2 separate regions of the Homo sapiens genome follow, and region 1 is linked to region 2. Evidence: fine-mapped expression QTL. A gene starts in region 2. The other region holds a variant in brackets. All regions are shown on one strand. Distances are between the middles of the regions.

Region 1 (2,822 bases), 26 kb before region 2:
GAGCAAGGCTCTGTGGGCGTGGGACCCGCTGAGCCAGGCGCGGGGCATAATCTCCTGGTGTGCCATTTGCTAAGACCGTTGGAAAAGTGTAGTGTTAGGGCGGGAGTGTCCCAATTTTCCAGGTACAGTCTGTCATGGCTTCCCTTGGCTAGGAAAGGGAAATCTCCCGACTCCTTGTGCTTTCCGGGTGAGGTGACGCCCTGCCCTGCTTTGGCTCATGCTCCATGGGCTGTACCTACTGTCCAACAAGTCCCAGTGAGATGAACCAGGTACCTGAATTGGAAATGCAGAAATCACCTGTCTTCTGTGTCAATCACGCTGGGAGCTGCATACTGGAGCTGTTCCTATCTGGCCATCTTGGAATGGACTTCCTCTGGTAGTATGTTTTAATTGATTGCTTTTTATTTGTAGTGTATTTATAGATTTTTGCTTTGTGGTTACTATGAGGCTTACAAGTTCTTCTAAACAGACAGCAACTTAAATTTGATCACAAAAATAAGAAACAAAGGAAAAACTAAACAAAACTCTACACTTTAACTCCACCCCTTGCTACATTTTGACTTTTGTTGTCTCAGTTTACATCTTTTTATTTTGCCTATCTCTTAACAGGTTACTGTAGTTATTATTTCTGATAGTTTTGTCTTTTAGTCTTCATACTAGAGACATGAGTGGATTACACACCACAGTTACAGTGTTAGAGTATTCTGAATTTGTTCACTTACTTTTACTAGTAAGTTTTATAACTTCAAATGCTTGCTTTTTGCAACCTTTCTTTCAGATTGAAGAACTCTCTTTAGCATTTCTTGTATGACGAGTCTAGTGATGAATTCCCTCAGCTTTTGTTAGTCTGGGAAAGACTTTCTCTTTCCTTCATGTTTGAAGGAAAGCTTTGCCAGGTACAATGTACTCAGCAGTTTTCTTTAAAAACACTTTAAACATGTTGTCCTCCTCCCTCCTGGCCTCTGTTTCTGGTGAGAAGTACGTTGCTAGACAAATTGGAGCTCTTTTATGTACTATTTGCTGCTTTTCTCTTGCTGTTTTCAGGATCCTCTGTCTTTGACCTTTGAGAGTCTGATTATTATATGCCTTGGGGTAGTCTTATTTGGGTTGAATCTGTTTGGTGGTCCCTGAACCTGGATATTTACATCTTTCTTTAGGTTTGGAAAATTTTCTTATTGTTTCTTTGAACAAACTTCTTACTCTTGCTGTTTCTCAACTCCCTCCTGAATGCCAATGACATACATTTGCTTTTTGGCAATTATTTTCTATATCTTGTAGGCATTTTAAATTCCTTTTCATTTTTTTCTGTGTATTTTCCAGTAAACTATCTTTGAGCTCACTGATTCTTCTGCTTGATCTTCCTTCTGCTGTTGAGAGTCTCTAATGTATTTTTCAGTTCAGTAAATGCATTTCTCAGTTCCAGGACTTTTGTTTGATTTTTTAAAAAATTATTTCAACCTTTTTGTGAAATTTCTGTTAATTTTCTGAATTGATTTTCTATATTACCTTGGAATTCACTGC[A/G]TTTCCTTAGAATTGCTATTTTGAATTCTTTATCTGAGAGTTCACACATCACCATCTTGTTAGGGTTGATCACTGGCTCTTTGCTTTGTCCATCTGGGGAGGTCATGATTCCCTGTTTGCTGTTGTTTCTTGTGTATGTACATTTATGGATTTTCATTGAAAGATTAGTTACTTATTCTAGTCATCACTGTCTCACATGTTCTGGTCTTTCTAGGGTATATTTGCTTAAAGGTTCTTTGTAGCTGTCTGCAAGTCTCCTTAATCCTATATTGTTGCCTCTCTTTCTTGGCACTAGGTAGTGCTTTAAGCTCAGGTTTGCCTCAGCTCTCACGAAAGTTCAGAGCACTGTCCATCCAAATGTTCAGAGCACTGCCCATCCAAATGTTCAGAGCACTGCTTGTCCTGAATGGGGGATATTCTGGCTAAATGGGAAGGCTGGCAAGGAGTGTATGCCCAGTAGGCCCGTGGAGCATGCCTTCTATAGCATGCTGTTAAACAGCTACTCTGATTTGGCATCTCCTTTGGCTGAGATAAAAAGCAGAGTTTTGTGGGCTGGGGTTTCTAGTCCTGCCTCCCCTGTTTGTCTCTAGGTACCCTCAGGGTTTTCTCTCCCTGTAGGCACTTGTGGTGCTTCTGGTGGGCTGAGGTAGGAACAGTGTTTGTGCAAGGGAACCCAAGAAAGTGAGGAAGCTGGCTGTCTGCCTTGCTTTCACTTCTTCCAGTGTAGAAAATGTGAATCTGGAAGAAATGATCCATGAGTGGTGCCTGGCAGATTGAAGGAGGGGCATTGTGGATAGAGAAGTCTGTTTCTCTTACCATCTACTCAGAGTGTTTTACTTCTCTGTCGTTCCGGGGATTGTCTCAGCCTCAGAATTGAGTTCTGGGATAATGCTGGTGATAATCTTGGTACTGGATTTTATTTTATTTATTTATTTTTTGTGGGAGAGAATAAAGCCAGGTTGCTTTGACTGTACCAATTTGGTGATATCACCTTGACAGAATTTTTAAGAGAGCCATTTGTCATGTTTCCTTTTCTACTATGGAAATAGATGAAAACTCCAATAGCCTGGGTCCCTGCTGAACTGAGTTGAATGTGTTAACAGCTGAGATTTTGGAGTTGTCTGTTATTGTAGTATAACCAAGCCCATCCTGACTAATACAGAATTCTAATTTGTAAATTGTTTTTCTTCAGAACGTTAAACATGTCACTCCTTTGCCTTCTTTAGTATGGCTGTTGAAAAGTTTAAAACCATTCTAATTCTTGATTCTTTCATTGTGACCTTCCCATTTTTTTTCTATTT
Region 2 (2,822 bases):
AACTAGGTGGTGATGTGTCCCCAAACCTAATGGGTCCTCATATACACAGTCCCCCTCACTGACCTTGGCCCTGGATCAACAAGAACTGGATTGGAAATCTGGAAACTTGGAGTTTAAGCTTTGTCCCTCGTTGCTTGTAACCTTAGGGACATGGTTTAACTCTTCCAGTTGCCCAGTCTTCACAATGAAGGGTTTGAACAGGGTTAATTTATTCATTTAACTACAAGTGTCAAACCAATGAACAATGGATAGAAACTTTCTGTTAGATGAATGGATAAAGAAAACATAGTAAATACATACAGTGGAATATTATTTAGCCTTGAAAAAGAGGGAAATCCTGTCATTTGCAACAACACAATGGAGGACATTATGCTAAGTGAAATATGCTAAGTGAAATAATATGCTAAGTGAAATAAGCCAGTCACATGTATATGATGTATCAGAAATTGATTCCATGTATATGACATATCAGAAATTGTCAAACTAATAGCAGCAGAGAAAAGAGTTGGCTGCACCAACAGCACCCAGGGCTTGGAGCAAATTGTCAGGGGCTAGGGGAAGAGGCAAATGGGGAATTGTTATTCCATGCATATAGAGTTTCGGTTCTGCGGGGTGAATAAGTTCTAGAGATCTGCTGTACAACATAGTGCTTGTAATTAAGAATCTGGTATTGTGTACTTCAGAATTCCTTAAGATCTCATGTTAAGTGTTTTTACCACACACACACACACACACACACACACTCAAAGGAATATGAGAAACTTTGGGAAGTGTTGGATATGCATATTACCTTGATTGTGGCGATGGTATCATGGGTGTTTGCATATGTCCAACTTCACCAAACTGTACACATTAAATATGTACAGTTATTTGTATATCAACTATACCTCAACAAAGCTGTTAAAGGAAACTTGCTCTTAGACATATTTTGTTTGGCCTATACAGTGCTTTAAATTTAAGCACCCACATTTAATATTCTAGAATTTCTGATAGAGAGCCACACTTCTGACCTTCTTTCAAAACTGTAAGAATTGGTAACACTGGGCCTGCATGTCCACATGGCAACAATTGGCTGCAATCTTTCTCCCCTCACACGGGGTTTACACTCTCCTAACTTGCCACGGTCCCCACCACTCCCTATTGTATCCCCCACACAGGGGCTGAGTGCCAATGGCTATTGACTTATTGCACCTGATCCTCCTCACTCACCTGCATTCAGTGCCTGGCCCTGCATCGGATAGTCACTGAGGGCCCATTTTGTCCATGGCATCATGCTCTTTACATCAGAAATTATGATGATAAAGAGCTTAGAAGAGGGCACTGGGACCTGGGTATAATGAGATCATAGACATCTCCAACATCATTTTCAGCTGAGAATTCTAGAGTTCTGTAATGTAAGAAGTCTCTGCCCCTCCCTCCCTGAACTGTAAAAATGAACATTTTCACTCAGGGTGATCTCCATCTCCATGCTCAGGTCGGGAAGGGAGATGGTTCCCTTCCCACTGTCCGCATGCCTCATCCTGACCCTACAAATAATTTAACCCCCTGGATGTGTGGGTGGGGAGCTCTCATAAGCTAGCCATACACTTTCTCTCTCTCTCTCTCTCTCTCTCTGTTAGTTTCCTCATCTGGAAAAAACACCACTAGGTTGTTGAAAAATTTGGAGTTCGGGGCTTGAGTTTTCCAGGCTACATACGCTATGACTGACCTCGGACAAGTCATTTCACCTCTCTGAGTCTCCTCATCTGCAACATGGGAATAAATACTATCATTCCTGTATAAGAAAATGTGTTCGGGAAATGGGAAAGTACTATACAAATGAACAATTGTTATTAATTTTATACATAGCAGAAGATATTTTCTCCTCCTTTGTATCAAGGGGATGGCAGAAGAATAAAGTGAAGTGATAGGCATGTCACTGCCTTGGAAGGGAAATTGTTCCAGTCCACAAGGGATTCTTGTATTGTGATTATTAATATAGTTCACCAAATGGTCTTGGCTGGGAGCCTGAAGGTGTAGCAGCTGCAGGGACTTGAAGCTCTCCACCGCTGTGGCTCCTGCCTGCCTGCCTTCTCAAGACAGGTTTTCCCCTTCTCTAGGCTGGCGTTCCTCTGTCTCCCAGAATCCAGCTCTGATCGTCCTTTTCCCACAAGTTCTCCTGGATGATCCCCGCTCTTCCCGCACCCTATGCCGCCCTTACTTTCTGGGTGCAGATGTCAAGGACTATTGAGTGCCATCCTGGAGGGGTTTTAATGATCACCTCATGATTCTGCTGGTGGACATACTATTTTTTTTGAGCCCCCATCATGTGCCACGTACTGAATTGGTGTGAAAGAGATGAATAAGACATATGAAGCTCTTGATCTTGTGGAGATGACAGTGGGGAGGAGACAGAGATAACACACAAGGGAACAAGTGAGTACAAATGCAGAGATAATTAAGACCGTGGTAAGTCCCATAAAGAAAATAAAAGAGAGACGATGTGCTCCAGAGTGCTTGGGTGGTGGGGAGTGGTGGTAACAGAGGGTGGTTATCTCTTCTTGGAGGAGCTGACGTGAGCTGAGATGTGAAAGATGGAAAGGAGCAGCCATGGGGAAATGGAAGGAGATGCATTCCAGGTAGAGGGAATGAGGTTGGCTTGTCCAGGCTTCTTAATTAACCGATGAAGACAGAGCAGGGAAGTGTCTTGCACGAGGCTGCACAGCTAGTCATCAGCAGCAGAGCAGGACTAAAATCCTGTTCTCTGGGCATCCAGGCCCGTGGTATGCTAATGCAACCCTTATTTCTTCTTTGCAAGCAGGGCCTCTATGGAGCTCCTCACC

Direction of the effects. Alleles are on the strand shown, and positions count from the first base shown. SD is a standard deviation of normalised expression in the study named.
For the expression in liver of the gene that starts at base 1,325 in region 2, allele A in region 1 goes with a higher level than allele G (moderate effect, 0.68 SD a copy in GTEx).

The links. PIP is the estimated chance that this variant, and not a neighbour inherited with it, causes the effect.
Region 1: its variant is the best candidate, but not a certain one, in a credible set for the expression of LINC02702 in liver (GTEx, PIP 0.83).

Annotation. Positions count from the first base shown.
Region 1 is chr11:116,664,264-116,667,085 of GRCh38, reverse strand. No RefSeq gene overlaps it. Among named protein-coding and RNA genes, the nearest start is that of LINC02702, 26 kb to the right of the region's middle. The variant A/G (reference allele first, on the strand shown) is at 1,522.
Region 2 is chr11:116,637,925-116,640,746 of GRCh38, reverse strand. It overlaps LINC02702 (long intergenic non-protein coding RNA 2702), which reads right to left and starts at 1,325. Exons shown (of 3, transcript NR_135069.1): 1 at 1,210-1,325. It overlaps LOC107984372 (a long non-coding RNA gene), which reads left to right and starts at 1,433. Exons shown (of 4, transcript XR_001748078.1): 1 at 1,433-2,415. RefSeq lists an enhancer at 1-23.